Linked DNA regions of Homo sapiens. The protein of the gene in region 3 purifies or fractionates together with the protein of the main gene of each other region. This does not show direct contact. Each region holds a gene or a part of one and is shown on either strand. Other genes may lie near its edges.

Region 1 (7,026 bases), on a different chromosome or scaffold from region 3:
ATTAGAGACAAGTAAGGAATATGGAATTCATACTTATGAACTCTTAAATGATCATTTATCAGTAATACAATCTAGAACTGGCTTTACGAATACTAAAATACACATTTCTTAAAAACACTACCTTGTTTAAAAACTACCCTCTTATGTAAAATCCTCAGCCTATCTTCTCCTAAACCACATTTTTAATTTCCATAATTCCCACAATATGTAACTCTTAATAACATACAAGAAGGTAATCCTCTAGGATGTCTGTCAGCAACCAGGGTTCAAATTTTGGAATATAAAAGAACTGTTCCTCTATGCTTTGTTTCAGCAACTAGCACTTAGAGCAAATCAAAACAATAGCCGTGTTTCTACAAATCCTAAAATCCTTATACTCCAATTTTCAAACCAACCTGTATATGGAAAGGAGGCCATGGATTCACTACTAATAGAACTATCCACAAACACACACTGGTTTCATTATTTAATACTAAACCATTTATTTCCAAATATAATTCTCAGGTCTTAACTATAGAATATGATCCTTTCCTCTTTTTACAGAAACAAAGCACAGGCCTAAGGATCCATTATTTTAGTATAATCTCAATCTGCAATTGTCACCAAACAAGTCATTTGCTATTTGGGGAGCCCTGCTTCTTTCCAAAGATAGCAGGTGATTCAGTTAGCCTTAGAGCTCAAATATCTCCCTGGATGCTGCCCTTTACTGTTTGACAAATGCTATCTTAAAAGTTCCTCCAGTTACATCTATGCTGCAAAAAAAAAACAAAAAACTTCCTAGAGCAAGTTTATATTGAATTGACAGGATCTTGGGATCTTGGGTACTGAGTCCACCTAGTCATTTTACAGATGAGAAATCTAAGAATATAAAAAAAGTCCTGCTTACCCATATGTTATGACACAGCCAGGAATAGAACTTAGCATACCTTTTATCATATCATGGAGGCATGACACCTACCTTTCAGGAATTACTGCAAGGATTAAATAAAAACCAAACAGAAGCTCTGGAAGCTATATATAAGTTAGTTCATCAAAGTCAGCCAATGTTGTGTTTCTTAAATTTATACTTCCATATGCTATGCCCAGATTCTCCCCTAGTCTGGAATAAGATTACAGACAGTTCTAATGTGATGGATAATTATTTTCTTTAAACCAAACACCCTCAGTTTCGCTCCTGGGCACTGAGCTAAGGATTTGCTACCAATAGCCTATCAATACATTAGTACCTTTTGGTAAACAGTTATAATCTTTGCATATCACTGAGTGATTGAACATGGGCTCTATTAAACAGTTGTGGTTGGACACGGTGGCTCACACCTGTAATCCCAGCATTTTGGGAGGCCAAGGCGGGAGGATCACTTGAGGCCAGGAGTTCAAGACCAGCCTGGCCAACATGGTGTAACCATGTCTCTACTGAAAATACAAAAATTAGCCAGGCATGGTGGAGCATGCCTGTAGTCCCAGTACTCGGGAGGCTGAGGCAGGAGAATCGCTTGAACTTCAGAATGGCCAAAATCGCGCCACTGCACTCTAGCATGGGAGACAGGAGACTGTGTCTCAAAGAAACAAAAAAAAGTTGTGTTGACCACTATGAGAAACTTAACGTTGCATAGGGTTCATTTGTTAAGGCACCAATCACAACTTCATTGTTTATCATGCAAAATTATGATTCCATTATAGTTTTGCATAAATTTTTATTACCAAGTTCAAAACATCACCCAATACCATGTATTTTTATCTACTCCCTCCAATAGTATATCATTTTTCCTTATCCCAACAAATCCACGGAATATGATATTCCCATCATTAACAGTGCTCACCATAAGAGCAAATTCTTTCTGAAGAAAAGAAAAAGTTTAAGGTGCGGCAGCTCACGCCTGTAATCCCAGCACTTTGGGAGGCCAAGGAGGGCAGATCACCTGAGGTCAGAGTTCGAGATCAGCCTGACCAACATGGAGAAACCCATCTCTACTAAAAATACAAAATTAGCCGGGCGTGGTGGCACATGCCTGTAATCCCAGCTACTCAGGAGCTGAGGCAGGAGAATTGCTTGAACCCTGGAGGCAGAGGTTGCAGTGAGCCGAGATCACGCCATTGCACTCCAGCACAGGCAACAAGAGCAAAACTCCATCTCAAAAAAAAAAAAGAAAAAAGAAAAAGTTTAGAAAACATCTGCCCCTCCCACCCCCCAACTAACTTGAATATGCTTCTGGTTAGGAATCACTGTCCTAAATAACCTGTAATCCAAGACTTTAAACCACAATACTGTAACAAATAACTGGCAAAGTAAACATGATTTTAGGTCAGGCGTGGTGGCTCATGCCCGTAATCCCAGCACTTTGGAAGGCCAAGGCGGATGCATCACCTGAGGTCAGGAGTTCGAGACCAGCCTGGCCAACATGGTGAAATCCTGTCTCTACTAAAAATACAAAAAATTAGCTGGGCGTGGTGATGCATGCCTGTAATCCCAGTTACTCGGGAGGGTGAGGCAGGAGAATCGTTTGAACCCAGGGGGCGGAGGTTGCAGTGAGCCAAGATAGCGCCACTGTTACTTCAGCCTGGGCAACAGAGCGAGAATGTCTCCAAACAAAACAAAACAAAACAAAACAAAACAAAACAAAACAAAACACCATGTAATTTTAAAAGCTAGTGAAGGGCTGGGTGTGGTGGCTCACACCTGTAATCCCAGCACTTTGGGAGGCCAAGGAGGGTGGATCACCGAGGTCAGGAGTTCGAGACCAGCCTGGCCAGCTGGTCTAAAAAATATAAAAAATTAGCCAGGCATGGTGGCGGGTGCCTGTAATCCCAGCTACTCCAGAGGCTGAGGCAGGAGAATCGCGTGAACCCGGGAGGCGGAGGTTGCAGTGAGCCGACAGTGCCACTACACTCCAGCCTAAGCAACAAGAGTGAACTCCATCTCACACACACAAAAAAAAAAGTTAGTGAAGGGCTGGGCAAGGTGGCTCACGCCTGTAATCCCAGCACTTTGGGAGGCCAAGGTGGGTGGCTTGCCTGAGCTCAGGAGTTGAAGACCAGCCTGGGCAAAATGGTGAAACCCTGTCTCTACTAAAAATACAAAAATTAGCCGGGCCTGGTGGCAGGCACCTATAGTCCCAGCTACTTAGGAGGCTGACGTGGAAGGATCATTTGAGCCCAGGAGGCGGAGGGTGCAGTGAGCCAAGATCACTCCACTGCACTCCAGCCTCGGCAACAGAATGAAATCTTGTCTCAAAAAAAGAAAAAAAAAAAAAAAGATAGTGAATAACATACTCTGATCTTTGCTCTCTTCATACATTTAAAAACAGGCCAGTAATGCTATGTTCCAAATTCTACATTGGAAATAACTTCAAGATAGAACTAATGTTAAAATGGCCACATTTTCTAGTTTTAACTATCTCAAAGTAAAATTTGTACAGTTGTATGACAATGGTAAAATGACTAATCAAACAGAAATAACCACATTAAAATATTCTATTTTTCAAAGCGTTAGAGTCAAATATATACACATAAACCACTCTTTTAAGGGCTGGGTGCAGTGGCTCATGCCTGTAATCCCAGCACTTTGGGAGGCCAAGGCAGGAGGAACGCTTGAGCCCAGGAATTGGAGACCTGCCTAGGCAATATAGTGAGACCCTGTCTCTATTAAAAAAAGAAAAAAAAAGCATTCTTTCAAATACTCTTTGAGGGATGAGGGTACAGTAAGTCTCCCTTGTCAAAAACAAAAAGCCATCAAGTAACAGCATTAAATCTATGGGTTATCTTATTGGTAAAACTCCAGTGCTTTCAATTCTGGGTCATTACTATTACACGCAATACCACTTACTTATTTTCAGTGTCTGCCACTGGATGATGTTCTTCACCTTCAGGTGTTTCCTCAGTCACATTTGATTGATCCAAGTCACTGTAATTATAAGATATTTGTTTCTGAATGTATTTGGGGGACTCTCTAAGGAAAGAAAGAAAAAGAAAGGCATCTAGGTCCATTTACATGTAGCTGAAAAGTTCTTCATACAAAAATACCATAAGCTCTCACATTCTCTAACTCCTTTCTTACTAAATATACTCCCCAGAAGACGTCGAAAAGTAAACAATATAAACTAGTTAGTTCATATACTTCATACTTAAAAAGTAACAGAACAAGGCAGTTAATTATAAAATGAAGCTTTACTAGCTTATCAAATTTTGTAATGACAACAAAGTCAAAAGCTAGAATAGGAACTATTAAGGACACTAAGATAATCAGAATACCCAAATAACCTTATTGTGGGGTTTCAGGAAAAGCTACAAATACATATGGGGGGGAAAAAATGAGTAACAAATATATCGAAATATTAAAAAACCGGTCATTCAATATACTATAACCCAAACCCATCCCATAAGACATTATCTTGTAATATAGTAACTCTCAGAAGAGAGCATTCATTCTTATCTCAGAGACAAGTAAAATTTGACAGAGGTATGGATTAACCTCTAGTTAGGTATAGAATTTTTAAGAAAATCAGAATACCAACGTTAATTCGTCTTTGACAGTTCCCCAGTTGTGAGATCCGCTACCTCCACGTTTGTCCTCGTGCTTCAGGCCACTGTAATGTGAAAAAGAACTAACAAAACTGAGTTAACATAATACTCTTTAGTTCTAGAAATTCAAAGTTTGTTTATTAAATAGATTAAAATATTAAAGTAAAATAAAAACCAGTAAGACTTACGATCTATCACTTCCACTATGCCTATCAAATTCACGTTTGCCACGAGAATCAAATCCATCTCCTCGGCCCATTCCACGTCCACGGCCCCCTCGACCTCTTCCAAGACCACCACGACCTCGAATAGGTCGGTCAATAATCGGTCTATAATATAAACAAATAAATTATACTTCCATGGTTTCCAGAAGAAATGAGGAAAATTCATCCAAAAGATCAAAAATACAGAACATGTTTACTGGCTCAAAAACCAATAGTTAAATACATACACTTCAGAAAATTCAAAATAGTCTGTTTCTAAACACAAAGGAAACCAGAACAAGACAGCCTCCCAAAACAAGAAAACTATTTTAGCACTCTAAAGCATTACTACCAGTGCATATACTTTTCCACTGCTATTCATTGCACATATAATCCAGTCCATCACTATTTACCAATACACTTAAAAATTAAACACATCTAACTTGCATAAGTAATTTATTTGCTATAAACAATAAACCAACAGTATTTTCCTTCAACTAACAGTATTTTCCTTTTAACTCTGTATCTGGAGAGAGAAAGAAAAAGAAATTGGTTATCAATTCAACAAAGTGTTTCCATTACAAGAGACCTAAGTTTGAACTGTTACCCAAAGATCTAAAGCTTAACAATGCACACATACAGATGTTTCTGTGAAAAATTAATAGAAACAATTAGCCAGACTGCTACCTGGCAATTATGCCCAATTTATAGCTTAACATTAAAATGTGACTCTATAAAGTAACAAAATATGAAGACTTCTTTGGTTTACGCCTGTAATCCCAATATTGCAGGAGGACAGCTTGAGCACAGGAGCTCAAGACCAGCCAATGCAATATATATAGTGAGACCTCAGCTCTACAAAAAAAATTAGCAGTGTGGTGGCGTGACCTTGTAGTCCGAGCTACTCAAGAGGAGACTGAGATGAGAGGATCATTTGAGCCCAGGAAGCAGAGGCTGCAGTGAGCCAAGCTTGTACCACTGCACTCCAGCCTACATGTTAGACCAAGACCCTGGCTCAAAAACAAGAAACAACTTACCTATCAACTGAAAATTCGCCTCCTTCACCCTTTTCTTCAAGTGGCTTTTCGAATCTTCGTTCACGAGGTGGTCGCCTTTCTGGTCTTCTATCAATTATTTTCCCTTCACCCTGAAGTTGTTGATCAGGTCTTCTTCCAACTCGTCTTATTCCTAAAACGATAAGATAACCTGCATAAGCAAATTATTTTTGCAATCCAAAAACTTTAGGCCTGGACTGTCAAAAGCTGCTTCTCTTCCAATCCACTACCATTTCCTGTTGGAAAAAAGCAAACACTGGGCAACTCTAATGTGTAACAAAGTACCTTAGGAAAACTGCCATTTAAAGACAATAAACCTTCCAATCCATACCACCGACTAAATACATAAATAAATAAAATAAAAACAATAAACTTATTTTAAACTTCTATTTAAGTTTGCCAAGTTCTCCCCCTCAAAAGCATTTTCTATAACTGACTTGGAAATCATTTGGGCAACCATTATTCCCGTCACTTTCCAAGATAGTCTCTTAATAAAAACTTTTAAATTTAAAAAATTTTAGGCAAGCAATACATTTTGGCTTTTAAAATACCAAAGAAAATACCAGCAGCCATTCATAAATAACCAAGCAAATCAACACACTCACTAGATATGGCCCCTCACAAAAGTGAGGGCCGCACTATGTTATTCTATCTAATCTGAAAAAAAAATGCAATTAAGACTCATAATTCTATAAAATTACAAATCTGAAAGGAAAATATGGCATTTAGGATTATTAGAGAACATCACTTCAGTTTAAAACAGCCATTTAACCAGAAAAAGTGTCATCTTTTGGTCTTCTTAGCTACAGGCACACAAAAAGGGCCATCTTCCCCTATTAAAGTTTAAAATTTTATAGCATGTAAGTGTATATATGTTTGTACACACTCCCACATCCCTAAGTACTTCCAAGTTAGGAAACAGTTACTTATTATGCATGGAGAGAGTCCTCTAAAAAATTTGCCCTAACAACTATCTTTATTTTCAAAGAATCTTTAAAAACCAAATACACACACGTTAAGACCGCTTTTAAGCAACATGTAAGAAATAAGAAAACTTGTGACACTAAGTGATAGCTGAAGCATTTACTAATTTCCCCCTTTACTACTTTTTTCCTGTAATGTCTGAAACCCCACAAAGGCAACCAATTTAAATTATTGGTGCCCATAAGGATCAACAGATTGATGGTTAAATTAATGACTTTAAGATTGTTGGTATGCTCTAATTCCCAATTTCTGACAAAGTCATAAAG
Region 2 (7,010 bases), on a different chromosome or scaffold from region 3:
GCATCACCCACCCACAGAGACATGGGGAATTCACCAAGCACAGCTGGCACTCAGCATGCCTGCCCATACAGATTCTGTCTCTCCCTTGTGTTTGATTTAGGTGGATACTATGAGCCAACCTGCTGAAAGACCTCCTGGGACGCAAGGCTAATCCTGCTTACCCACCTACCCAACCCCCCCACCCCCGCCCCCACCAGCAGCACATGTCTGTGGCTAGCGATGACCCAATGAAACGGCTGCAAGTATGAAAGGAAAACGTGGGAATCAACTGCAATAACATGTTTTCAATCAGGGAGAGGTGAAGATAACCAAGAAACTGCTGTCAATTTCTCAGGCATGATAATGCAACTGTGGTTATGTGATTTTTGTTTTTAAGAATCCTCAGCCAGGCACGGTGGCTCACGCCTGTAATCCCAGCACTTTGGGAGGCCAAGGTAGGTGGATCACAAGGTCAGGAGTTCAAGATCAGCTTGGCCAACATGGTGAAACCCCTTCTCTACTAAAAATACAAAAATGAGCCAGGCGTGGTGGCAGGTGCCTGTAATCCCAGGTACTCGGGAGGCTGAAGTAGGAGAATCACGATCGCACCATTGCACTACAGCCTGGGCGACAGAGTAAAACTATGTCTCCAAAAAAAAAAAAAAAATCCTCATCTTTTACAGATATACCGCTGAATTATCTATGAATACTAGGATTTGCTGCAAAGTAAAAACCACTGCAGGGAGGGGCCTGGCTGTGAACTGATAAGGTGAAGCTGGGTAATGAAAATACTGGTGTGTGTGGGGGGGTCATTCATTATACTTGTCTCCCTGCTTTTGTATATGTTTGACGTTTTCCATAATAAAAAGTTAAACAAAAAAGAACATGCAGCAGGGCGGAGTGGCTCACGCCTGTAATCCTAACACTTTGGGAGACCCAGGTGGGTGGATCATGAGGTCAGGAGTTCAATACCAGCCTGGCCAAGATGGTGAAATCCCGTCTCTACTAAAAATACAAAAATTAGCTGGGTGTGGTGGCGGGCACCTGTAATCTCAGCTACTCGGGAGGCTGAGGCAGAGAATTGCTTGAACCCAGGAGGCAGAGGTTGCAGTGAGCCGAGATGGCACCACTGCACTCCAACCTGGGCGACACAGCAAGACTCCGTCTCAAAAACACACACACACACACACACACACACACACACACACATACACACATTAATCAGTTAATAAAGAGCCCTTCAATAATAACAGCAATCACTTCCCATTATGACAAAAACACATTCTAAAAAGTGCTCTCAACAGTGAAGACTTACTTCCAAATCCATTAATCCTCTGCCGTCCAGACTTTAAAACTGTTACTTAAGGCTGGCAACCAGATTTTCCTCTACTGCACCCCTTTAATGGGCCAAATTTCACCTGTTACAGACTCAGAAGGCAAGACCTAAAAGGTGTACTCTGCTGGGGCTGTCCTGGGGACAGACTGGTCTCTCCTCTCACTGCCAAAAACACCTATCACCAAGAAGCCAGGATTTCACTCTCCCATTTATGCTATTCAGTAAGGGCGCCTCCTGTCACAAAGTACAATTCTAGATTCACCCTGGGAATGGAGTCATTTAGCTTACACCACAGCCCGCGGGTAGGTGAGTCGCCACAGCCGGCTCAGTAACCCCATCCCAGTCAGGGCCACAAGGCTCAAGTTGATGTCAGCCGTCACCACTACAGGGCGCTTCAAAAATCCCCACATCTTGTAGAAAAGCGGGCTCAGGCAGACGCCCTAGAAAAGAAGGGAGGAGCCGTGGTCCATGAGGGCTCACGAGAGGCTACAGAAGGGATCCCCAGCCACCCGGCTCCCGGACACACGAGGAGAACCACAGCACAGCCGGGCTGCTGAGAAAGACCGAAGTTCCTGGAGCCTTGGTTCAGGTAGACATGTGGGGTGAGGGGCACTAGCAGTGAACTCGGGTGGGAATTCAGGGGATCTCAGGACTGGACATTCACTCCTTTCAACAACTCATTCCACAAAACCTGCCGAGCACGTCTTGGGCGCGAGAACACTGCTAAGGAACGCCAGGGTTTCTCCCCTCCCTCCCCGACGACCAGAAGCCCACAGTGCGGCCACAGCTACCTGACCCTGGGCAGCTCCTGGGTGCCATCTCAGCTGCTTACAGCCCAGGGACCCCAACCTGGCCGAGCCTCGGGGCCTCCTCATCTCTCCTCAAGGATGCATCTGCCCCCAGTGCCTCCCTGCCTTCTATCCCAGCGGCACATCATCCCCGGGTGCTCCCTTTCTCGCCTGGAGGGTGCATTTGCACCCTGCGCCCCCACGTTCTCCTCCAGGCTTCATCTTCCCTTGAGCTCCGCTTCTCTTGAGGCTGCATCAGGCCTGGGACACCCTGTCTCACACCAAAGCCGCATCTGGCCGTTGGCGCCCCGCTGGTCTCCTCAGGCCCCATCTACCCTGGACGCGCCCTTCCCTCCCTGAGCTGCATCTGCCTTGAGCGCCTTCGTCCCAAAAGGTCCCATCTGTCCTGGGAGTGCCTCCTCTCCCCTTGCAGACCGCATCTCCCTGGCCGGCCCTTCTTCCCCACAGGCCGCACCTGTCCCGTCCACCAACTCCCGAGGCTGCGTCGGCCCCAGCTCCGTCCTCACCCTGAGACTGCACCCGCAGCACGCCCTTCCTCCCTAGGGCTGCACGCGCCACGGAGTTCTTACTTCGGGGCTCGGCCGCCCGAACGCCGCATCTGCCCGGGCCCGAACCCCGCCCCCAGCTCCGGAAAGACGGGGACGCCCCCGGCCCCAGCCCGTCCGCAAGCCAGGGACCCGCGTCCGGCACTGACGGACTCCCCCAAGTCCGGGCTGGGCTCTCGTCCCCGGTGTCCCCAAATGTACCCGCGTTTCTCCGAGTCCACACAGAGCCGCGCCCGGCTCCCGGCAACGCCTCGGAACCGTCCGACTGGGCCGACGGTTGGGGGTGAGGCCGCTCGGCACTCCGCACCACCCACCGCCCTGCTCAACGTTCGATTCACCGAGCCTGCGGGGCCAGACGGGCAGCAGCGCGCGTGCGCACTGGGAGAGGGTGACGCGCGTGCGCAGCGGGCGAGGGCGCCGGTCCCGGAGGAGAGGCAGGTGTGAAACGCGGCGACCTCCCCTCTCTCGGGTGCTACTGTTTTGTGTGCCAGGATTTCTGTGTACTCTAAGCAGACGTGCAGATTTTAAAAAGCGCAGTGGGCTCCCACCCATCTTCTGCTCCTTGCTTTTTCACTCCATCTGGCGTGAAGATCTTAATTCTGCGTCTGCACAACGGCGTTCTGCCGGGCGCGCCAGTTTGCTCCTAGTTTTTTTCTTTTCTTTTCTTTTCTTTTTTTTTGAGACGGAGTTTCGCTCTTGTTGCCCAGGCTGGAGTGCAATGGCGCGATCTCGGCTCACCGCAACCTCCGCTTCCCGGGTTCAAGCGATTCTCCTGCCTCAGCCTCCCGAGTAGCTGAGATTGAAGGCGCACGCCACCACGCCCGGTTAATTTTTGTATTTGTAGTAGAGACAGGGTTTCACCATGTTGGCCAGGCTGGTCTCGAACTCCTGACCTGAAGTGATCCGCCCACCTCGGCCTCCCAAAGTGCTGGGATTACAGGCGTGAGCCACTGCGTCCGACCTTAATTTTTTTTTTAAGACACGGGGTCTCGCTCTGTCGCCCAGGCTGGAGTACAGTGGCAGGACCACGGCTTGCTGCAGCCTCGACCTCTCTGCCCGAAGCGATCCTCCCTCCTCGGCCTCCAGAGCAGCTGAGACCACAGGCACGTGCCCCCACGCCCGCGGGCGCTCCTAGTTTCCTTGCCGAAAAACATCGATGCCACGATCCTGCTTGCACATACATCTAGCGGTGAAGTGGCTGAGGGTAAGGGCATTTAAAACGGACCTAGGGCCGGGGGCGGTGGCTCACGCCTGTAACCCCAGCACTTTGGGTGGCCGAGGTGGGAGGATCCGTGAGCCCGCTTGAGTCCAGGAGAGCCTGGGCAACACAGCGAGACCCCGTCTCTACAAAAAAATACAAAAATTAGCGGGGCCCCTTGGCGTCTGCCTGCAGTCCCAGCTACAAGGGAGGCTGAGGCAGGAGATCACTTGGGGCAGAGAGGTCGAGGCTGCAGTGAGCCTTGGTCTCACCACTGCACTCCAGCCTGGACTACAAAGTGAGACCGTCTCAAAACAAAAAACAAAACCAAAAAAACCTGGACATCAGTGGGGGCTGCATGACCATCAGAGGCTCCAGTGGGGGCATCTCCCCTAAACTCCGTGGCAGAAGACTGGAGGCTTCTTCCTCCATTCCCAGGGCTCCTCCTCATCCATCAGCCTCTCCAGCCCCCTCTGCTGAGGGTCAAGAGCCTTCCCAAAGGCCTGCTTTGGAGCAGACATGGTACTTTTGGTTGGGTCAATGCACCCCTTCCCATGTTTTCCCTGAACAGTCGGCACCCAGAGCAGGGTAACTGACAGCAACGCAACCAGGCTGATGGATCACTCTTCTCAGCCTCGCTCCTTCTTGATCTCCTGGTCTATTTGTATGTTAATCTATACAGACCAAAAGGGCACACTGCAGGTTTAATAACCTTCATTATGGTTCTTGGCTGCCTGCAAGACTTTTTTTCCATGTTGGGCAACATAGCATTAGATGACACCAGTTAGAATTTCGTGGTTACTTCTTTATGGCTTACCCTTGAGGGGTTATGTGACTCACCCAAGATCCCACAGAGAGGCAAGGAGCTGGGGCTCACCTGGGTTTGTGGCCAGAGCCTGCAGGCAACTGTATTTACAGTGGGCAGGGAGGGTTCCCTGGGCCCCAGGAGGGAGTGGGGCTGGGCTGTTAAGCTTTGGTTCATGCCATGCTAACAGTGGTGGTGCCTCAGGACTTACAGCCTCCATCTTGCAAGCCCCCAACCTTAGGACTAGCCTCTTTCAGGGCTGGTCTCCGTTTGAGATTTTGTGAGCCACCTGTCCCTAGGGAGCAGTAAATCAGGGCAGTGAGTGTGGCTAGTTAAAGCTGAGATGCCCATGGCCAGGTCCCCAACTCTCTTCCATAGTCAAAAGGCTTAGAAGGAAGTTGAGGGACTGGGGTTCCTCATGGAAACAGCGTTTTATTTCTTGGGGGTAATTTATAAGTTTTCTTAGCTGGTTCTAGGCACTAAGCTAAAAGCTACTGGTGACTTTGAATCCACACTACGCCATGAGGTCGATACCATTACAATCTGTGTTTTATGATTAAGGAGACTGACTCAGGTGGTGAAACGTCTTTCCCCAGGTCAGTGAGGCAATGGCAAAACCGAGAACTGCTGCCTCAGCCCATTCTTACCTTTTACCCTTCGCTACCCCAGGCCTGGCTTGCTCCCTCCCCACCCCAAAGCACAGCATAATCCTCCTCCACTTCCTGCAAAAGCACCGCTAGAAGTGACAACACAACACGCCACATCAAATGCTTACCTCCTCTGACCAGCTCGTTTCTCACGGCAAGTGACGGGGCCACAGGCAGGCACTGTGCACAACCAGATGCCATCCGTGGGAAGAGGGTGGAGTGCTTGATGCTGCCGCATTTGGAAGATGCTTCTTAGCCACGGGTTTCAATCCCTTCTCTACCCACACAGCTTCTGTTAAGGCATTTCAGCCGTGCCACTCCTAATTTCCGTGTGAACTCTGTAAAATTAGAATTCTTTGATCTGTAGGTCTCTCTGGTCAAATGACCAAGAAACGAGGGATGTACAACCTGAGAAAGCACGTTCAGCTTTATCTTTTTAAACTTTTTTTATTTAAATAAGGAGAATTCTTTCATATGGAAAGAGCTAGTACAATCACATATTTGAAAGGAGAAACAATAGGTACTGAACCGGAGGGAAAGGGCGAGGGTGAGTGTGCCAGCACCGGCCTGGTGAATCCACGATTCGATTTCCCATCCAAGGTAAGTTTCCCAAAATACCGTATAAACAAGCTGCACATTACACCTCTAGCCATCGTCTGCCCTTTCAAATATCTGGTCTACATGGAAAGACAAAGAGGAAAGGCCAAAACATAAACAAAAGGAAACAAAAACAAAACACAACCCTCTCAGGAACCAAACAAAACCCCCAAATCCTTTTTTACTACACAAGGCATGAGGTCAAAAGCTTGAGTACAGTGTCCCCTTTAGATCACGGGAGAAAGGCGTCCACACAGAGCCTTAGCAGGAATTTCCACTCTGAGGCTTCAGAACATGCTGAAGATGGGGCTCTGAGGGTGCCACTACCATCCTGGAGGCCACCAAGTGGGGTGGAAACAGTGAAGAGCAGGTCTCACATGCCCGAAGACCACCAGCCAACTACACATTGGTGGCCCTGGTGGAGCATGGCTGGGCGACAGCGTCCATCCCCAACACTGAGCCACTCCTGTCCTGGATGACTTCCTGCTTAGGTCCGTCACATTTCAGAAGAGAGCTGGCTTTCTGGAAGCCTACGTTTCCCATTCATCACAGAACACGACAGAGTGCACACATCCTGGTATCCTTGGTCTTCAAAGGCCATTTCCAGCAGACCCTCTAACCCAGGCTTGTTCTGCAGGAAGTGAAAAGGGACAAATGAAGATTTGAGGGGCAGCCTGCAGCTACTTGGCACAGGGGAACCAAATGGCAAGGGAGAAGGCTCCACCAGAGCTGCCATGCTGCCGTAGCAGGCCAGACCACAGCATGGCTGTGCACCTGTGTGTGCTCAGCTTCCAGAAGCTGTCACTGACCATCGCGAAGGCAGATCCAGAAGATAGGAGGGTGACAGCACGGCTGGAGAGCACTGATGTCAACGTTTAACAAGGTTCCCCAGTGTCCCTAGAAGTGGCTGGAAGGACCACAGCTTTGGAACTGAACTGATTTTCTTGAATGTGAAATAAAGTCATCTTTTGTTTTCCCCCTTAAGGAACCTAGAGCCAGAGTGTCTATGAATTCCAAGTTTGAAAACAATATGAATGTTTAAAAAAAAACAAAAAACGCTGTGGGGAGAAGCCAACAGTTAAGAAAACCAAACC
Region 3 (7,026 bases):
TCATTTCAACTACTTCTGCCACTATCCATTTGCTGACTACTCCCAAATCCATATCACCAGCCCAGCTCTGTCTCCTGAGCTCTGGATCTGTATATGCAGCTGTTTATGATCAGCCATCCTTGGACTAGTCCACTGACACTTCAAAACAGGGTCCCAAACTCTATATCTTCACCCTCAGATCTGCTCTTGCTCCCAAATCAGGGTCATGGTCCCCATTCACCCAGCTATTCCAGAATCTGTCCCAGGAGTCATCTTTGACTCCTTCCTCTCCGATGCTCCATACTCTCCCCTCCAACAGCAACTCTGATCAGCTTTCCTCCAAATCAGTCCCACTTTGTTAGTTCATGCTCTCACCTGGATTAGTGCTTCCTAGATGGTCTTTTGCCTTTTTTTTTTTTTTTTTAAAGACGGAGTCTCCCTCTATTGCCCAGGCTGGAGTGCAGTGGTGCAATCTTGGCTGACTGCAACCTCCACCTCCCAGATTCAAGGGATTCTCCTGCCTCAGCCTCCCGAGTAGCTGGGACTACAGACGCGTGCCACCATGCCCAGCTAGTTTTTTTTTTTTTTTTTTTTTGTATTTTTAGTAGAGACTGGGTTTCACCATACCGGCCAGGCTGGTCTCAAACTCGTGACCTTGTGATCCGCCTGCCTCAGCCTCCCAAAGTGCTGGGATTACAGTTGTAAGCGACCACGCCTGGCCTACTTTTGCTTTCTTACATTCCAGTGTCTACACTGCCACTGAGAAGGACTATTCTAAAACACAGTTTTGAGCATGTGACTTCTCTGCTAGAAGACTGTCAGTTGCTCCTTTCTCCTCCACAGAGCTCTTCCTCACCTGACTGGTGCTTCCCTTCTGCCTCCCTCTCTGACCTTTGAACTTTAAGCTCCAGCCAGTCTAAACCACTTGTAGTTCCTCAGCTACACCATCCTCTCCCACAGAACTTTCACATACTGCTGCTTCTGGCTGGAATGCCCCTTTCACCCTTCTCTTCTCTGGTTTCTATTATAAGGAAATCTAGCACAAATCTAAACTCTTGAGTTCAGGAGTAACACAGGCTGGAATCGAATTCAGGCTCCACCTCGTATAAACGGTGTCATCTTAAGCAAGTCACTTTTCTTTGCATTTCGGTCTCCTCCTTTGTCACATAAAGAACACCTGCCTGATTGTATTACCATGGGCTAAACTAATTGAACACAAAGCACATAGCACAGTATCTGCCACAGAGTAAATGCTCACTATATGCTCAATAGATATTTTTACTATAGGCACTCAACCTTGACATCTCAGATTAGATACGTTTCCCCAGTGCCCAGGTCCACTTTAGATGTTCTTTCCAAGGCTCTTGCAGCAATCCACAGATGCCTCTATCATAATTCTCCTTCCATCATTCAAGTGCCCACCTTATCGCTGGCAGTTGGTTTATCATCCCTCACTTGACTGTAAGCTTCTCAAGATTAGGTATCTGCCTTACACATTTCTGTTTTGCCAGACCAGCTCCTTAATATTTAATATGTGATGACGTCCAGGGTTTTAATTTTATTAAACACTGAAAGAGAGCTTGTTAAAATTTCACAATATGACACACCTTAGATTAGGCAGGCGATATAGTCAGGTTTTTCACTTGAAAATTCAATTACAGGTAGGCACGGTGGCTTATGCCTGTGATCCCAGCACTTTGGGAAGCCAAAGCAAGAGGATCACTTGAGCCCAGGAGTTTGAGACCAGCCTGGGCAACATAGCAAGACTTTGTCTCTCCTAAAAAATAAAAAAAGAAAAATATAGCCAGGCATGGTGGCACGCGCCTGTAGTCCCAGCTACTCAAAAGGCTGAGGCAGGAGGATCCCTTGAGCCCAGAAGTTCAAGGTTGCAGTGAGCTGTGATCACACCACTGCATCCCTGCCTGGGTGACAGAGCAAGACCTTGTCTGTAAGAAAAAAATAAAAAGTAAAAAACGAAAATAAATTCAATTACATTTCTTCATTCTATATAAACATAAAATGAAAGAGAAGTGGTAGACAGTTCCCACATAATTTCATTTGGCAGCAAAAGTAAATATATGGTGCTCACTTCAGCAGCACATACACTAAAACCATAACAGTTCAGAGAGGACTAGCATGCCCCTGCAGAAGGATGACACACATTTGCAGTGTTACATATTTTCTTTAGAAAAGTAAATATGGCTGGGTGCAGTGGCTCACCCCTGTAATCCCAGCACTTTAGAAGGCCAAGGCGGGTGGATAACCTGAGGTCAGGAGTTTGAGACCAGCCTGGCCAACATGGTGAAACCCCATCCCTACAAAAATACAAAAAAAAATTAGCCGGGCATCATGGCGGGGGCCTGTAATCCCAGCTACTCGGGAGGCTGAGGCGGGAGAACTGCTTGAACCTGGGAGGCGGAGGTTGCAGTGAGCCGAGATCGCACCATTGCATTCCCGCCTGAGTGACAGAGCAAGACTCTGTCTCAAAAAAAAAAAAAAAAAAAGTAAATATATGCTATTTTAAAATGCTATTTTAAAAGAAGCAATTGTGCATAAAAAGAACATTTAAGAATGATTAACTGTACTTTCACACTTCACAGAAATGTCTCAGATCAAGCTCAAATTGCATGGTAGAAATAGGATGTCCCATTAAAATAATGAGGGTATTTCTATGCTCAGGGTTATATTTGTAGAAGTACCAGAAAAAATAAAAAGGAAACTATAAATTGGGCATTATCTTACACACCAGGTAGCTGAATCAATCTGACCTTAATGTTTCATAGGTACTATCTGCAGAGACCAACTCAGGTTGTTCACCTGTCAGAACTAACACTGATTAAATAATGCCCCTGACACTATTCTTAAAACCTTTTGCCTCCATATGTTTAAAGAAAAATCCTAGCAAATCAGCTAAAAATTGTGGTTAGTGAAGTTACTAATGTGCATGAAGAAATACGCATCATCATAATTTCTGGACAATCATTATTTACTGATGTTTTAAAGTTAAATTCACCTGACAATAGTAAATATTCCAGTTCAAAACTGTTATGAAAGAGATTATTAGCACGTTGAAGTTCTGCACAGTTTCCAGCTGAGCTGTCATTTAAACCACACCCACACAGCCCAAAAGCACATCATGCACAGAGAATTCAGGTGAGGTGACATTAAATCTCAACAAGTTTGGGGACATTTGGCAAGATAAAAATCCTTGATCAACTAGTCCAAAAGCACTGTCACCCATAAGAAACAGGGGGAACACTCAGCATAAATACCAATTTCAGCACTTCTTTTACATTGTGTCACTGAAAAGATTCATAGTGTAAGCAGTAGTAAGTTAGAAAATAATCAAGACAAGCCAGGCTCATGCTCCGAGCTCTCTTGGGACACCATTATTACCTTTAGCCACATTTTCCTTCCATCATTCAAGCACCTACCCTATCACTGGCAGTTGGTTTATCATCCTTCACTTGACTGTAAGCTTCTCAAGTTTAGGTTTCTGCCTTACACATTTCTGTTTTGCCAGACCAGCTCCTTGCCTTGGTGTTCATTTAATAAGTGATCACTTCCAGGGTTTTAATTTTATTAAACACTGAAAGAGAGCTTGTTAAAATTTCATAATATGACACATCTTAGATTAGGCAGGCAATATAGTCAGGTTTTTCACTTGAAAATTCAATTACAGGTAGGCACGTTGGCTTATGCCTGTGATCCCAGCACTTTGGGAAGCCAAAGCGGGAGGATCACTCTTCTAAACTATACATAGACTCTCCCTCCTATGAGACTTTGTAACTACACCTGTTCTACACCTATCAGCTTCCAGCTTTTTAATAGCTATATATTAACATGACTTCTCCATCCTACTAGACTGTGGTTTCTTCTAGGTCACTTTAGTGACTCTCCATAGCTTCACACAGGATTTCAATCCATGTTAAGTCTAGGTAACTGAGCACAAAGCATGGCACTATGATAGCTATATCAGGGGATCCAGAAAGTCTTTTTAAAAGAAATTCGATTTTTCTCATAAAGCAAATACTAAAATATATATTGATATGCATATGCACATCAGTTCCACTTTAGAAATAGAAAAATTATCCCTGGGGGGAAAAGTTACTTTTTGTTTTGAAAGATATTTTTTGTAGAGATGGGGAGGGTGGCATAGTTTCACTATGTTGCCCAGGCTGCTCTCGAACTCCCGACCTCAAGTGATCCTTGCACCTCAGCCTCTGTAAACTCAGCTGATAGCAATAACCTAAGCACATTCTGAGAATGACCCTGTATGGCAGACACACCTAAATGTGTGTTCTGAGTTAAGGAGTCCCCAAGTGCCCAACCCAGTGATTTGTTCTTTATCTATGATAAACATGTGAGCACCGCCCATCATGTAACATGGGATGTACAGGGGATTGAGGCCCTGAGTTTTGGGTTAAATGAAGGTTGCCAGGTGGAAGTCATTAGGGGGAAGACGTCAAGTGACAATGCTATGTAAACTACATGTTTGTAGGCAGTTGTGATTTTCCTGCCCTGCCTGCCACCACTGGACTGTAGAAAGACAGATATGTTGTCCAGCCTCCTGCCAATGCCCCTTTTCTATATATAAAGTGGTTCTTCTGTCCAGCCCACCACCACTGGACTCTTTCCCTTGTATGCAAGCCCCTAATAAAACCCTATTTTTGGCTGGGCACGGTGGCTCACGCCTGTAATCCCAACATTTTAAGAGGCCAAGGCTGGTGGATCACCTGAGGTCAGGAGTTCAAAACCAGCCTGACCAACATGGTGAAACTCTGTCCTTACTAAAAAATACAACAATTAGCCAGGCATGGTGGCGGGCACCTGTAATCCCAGCTACTCAGGAGGCTGAGGCACGAGAATCACTTGAAACCAGGAGGTGGAGGTTGCAGTGAGCTGAGATCACGCCACTGCACTCCAGCCTGGGTGACACAGTGAGACTCCATCTCAACAACAACAACCAAAAAAAAAAAAAAAAAAAAAACCCATGTCTTGTTTGCAGGCTCTGGGAATCTTCTTCAGCCTCTTCAACCTGGTGCCTTCACTACTGAGGTTAATGGGGGTTTGGCACAACAGTCTCCCAAAGTGCTGGGGTTACAGGCATGAGCTACCATGCCTGGATTAAAAAAAGCTTTAAAATAATTTATTACTACATGTTCATTGTAGAAAATCTAGAATACACCAATACGAAAACTGAAGATACAACTTTATGGCCCAGAAGAAAAAAATCATGTTTTAAATTATATCTTTCTGCTTTTTCTATACAAACATAGATACATGTTTTGATATATAAATAGTGTATGATCTATTTTGTAGCCTTTTCCTGCTTAACACATGGTACAAATCTTTTGCAAGTCATTAAACATTTTACAACCTAAATTTTTTTAACTGCCTAGTATTCCCAAATATGAATTTACCATTATTTAATCTTTTACTGTTCTTACATTTTTCTTTTTTTTTTTTTTTTTTTGAGACGAAGTCTCACTGTAGCCCAGGCTAGAGTGCAGTGGCACCATCTCGGCTCACTGAAACCTCCACCTCCCTGGTTCAAGCGATTCTTCTGCCTCAGCCTCCCAAGTAGCTGGAATTACAGGCGCGCACCACTGCACCCGGCTAATTTTTTGTATTTTTTAGTAGAGACGGGGTTTCACCATGTTGGCCAGGCTGGTCTTGAACTCCTGACCTCAGGTAACCCGCCCGCCTCGACCTCCCACAGTGCTAGGATTACAGGCATGAGCCACCACACCCGACCTTCATTCGTTTAAATGGTGCTGCAAATAAAAGAAAAAAAGATTGCTCGATTTTACTTCACGTTTATTATAAGTGGCAGTGCTTTTAGACAAGTTCAACAAGTTTTTGTTTTTTTTCTTTGTCTTACGGTGCTGATGAACAAGTTTTTTAATCCTGTAAAATGTTTCCATCTTTATAGCTAGAGGTTTGCCTATATCCATCATTACTTACCATAAATTCCATCTAGAGGGATTACGGGGTCAAAAAATAAACACACTTATAAGGCTTTGATGGATATTGCCAAACTGTTCTCCAAAAACGTGGTTCTAACATACATTTTCTCCAGCAGTGTACACTTAGTATTTTAACCTGCACTGAGATTACCATTTAAAAAAAAAAATCTTTGTCTGCATAGCATTTGGAAATCAGCCTTCAGGACTTCCCCAAACTCTCTTCTTTTGTTCCTCTAGTCTCCTGCTGCCTGATCATCTAAATTACACCTCTGCCCTTCTCAGACCTACTTTTGTTTGTGCTTTTCCACTGCTCAAGTCTTATGGTGGCTTTGCTATAACACAGAAATTTGCCTAGCTAGTATTTTATCCCCTTAGGGCCAAAGTGTCAACTAATCTGATAAACTAATCCATGCTAATGTAAAAGGGCTCATTTCCAGCAACACGTATGCAATATAACACGCAGTTTAAGGAAAATATATTGTCTACAACAGCAATGCCTTTTATCTTATAGAGCAGTGGTTCTCAAGTTTTGCTGCAATGAAGATCATCTGGGGAACTTTTCGTTTTTTATTTTTATTATTATTATTTTTTTGAGACGGAGTCTCACACTGTTGCCCAGGCTGGAGTGCAGTGGCCTGATCTCGGCCCACTGCAAGCTCCACCTCCCGGGTTCACGCCATTCTCCTGCCTCAGCCTCCCGAGTAGCCGGGACTACAGGAGCCTGCCACCACGCCCAGCTAATTTTTTTGTATTTTTAGTAGAGACGAGGTTTCACCGTATTAGCCAGGATGGTCTTGATCTCCTGACCTCGTGATCCGCCCGCCTCGGCCTCCCAAAGTGCTGGGATTACAGGCGTGAGCCACCGCGCCCGGCTGGAACTTTTCTTAAACACTGCTAAGAACGTTCATCTCCCAGAGATTCTAAGTAAGTTTGGTATGTGGTGTAACCTGGGCATCAAGTGTTTTGTTTTGGTTTGGTTTGTTTTAAACAGTTCTTAGGTGATTCTGACATAGCATCTGTGTTTGAGAGGAGTCAGAGAGATCCTAAGTAGCTGCTTCTTAAGGAATATGGGGAACCC

Evidence for each region.
Region 1: the proteins of NCEH1 (region 3) and SERBP1 purify together in Homo sapiens (affinity purification with mass spectrometry; 2 studies listed by BioGRID and IntAct, with this or other methods). This does not show direct contact.
Region 2: the proteins of NCEH1 (region 3) and POMT1 purify together in Homo sapiens (affinity purification with mass spectrometry; 2 studies listed by BioGRID and IntAct, with this or other methods). This does not show direct contact.

The regions. Positions count from the first base shown.
Region 1 is NC_000001.11:67,420,377-67,427,402, forward strand, and holds part of SERBP1 (SERPINE1 mRNA-binding protein 1), read right to left. Parts: intron 5,910-7,026; coding exon 5,759-5,909; intron 4,848-5,758; coding exon 4,707-4,847; intron 4,602-4,706; coding exon 4,512-4,601; intron 3,947-4,511; coding exon of another isoform or gene 3,902-3,946; coding exon 3,824-3,901; intron 1-3,823. UniProt on the Homo sapiens protein: Ribosome-binding protein that promotes ribosome hibernation, a process during which ribosomes are stabilized in an inactive state and preserved from proteasomal degradation.
Region 2 is NC_000009.12:131,498,934-131,505,943, reverse strand, and holds the start of POMT1 (protein O-mannosyl-transferase 1), read right to left. Parts: upstream 3,027-7,010; 5' UTR 2,871-3,026; exon of another isoform or gene 2,631-2,870; intron 1,756-2,630; 5' UTR 1,726-1,755; coding exon 1,604-1,725; exon of another isoform or gene 1,295-1,603; intron 1-1,294. UniProt on the Homo sapiens protein: Transfers mannosyl residues to the hydroxyl group of serine or threonine residues. Coexpression of both POMT1 and POMT2 is necessary for enzyme activity, expression of either POMT1 or POMT2 alone is insufficient.
Region 3 is NC_000003.12:172,701,064-172,708,089, forward strand, and holds part of NCEH1 (neutral cholesterol ester hydrolase 1), read right to left. Parts: intron 1-7,026.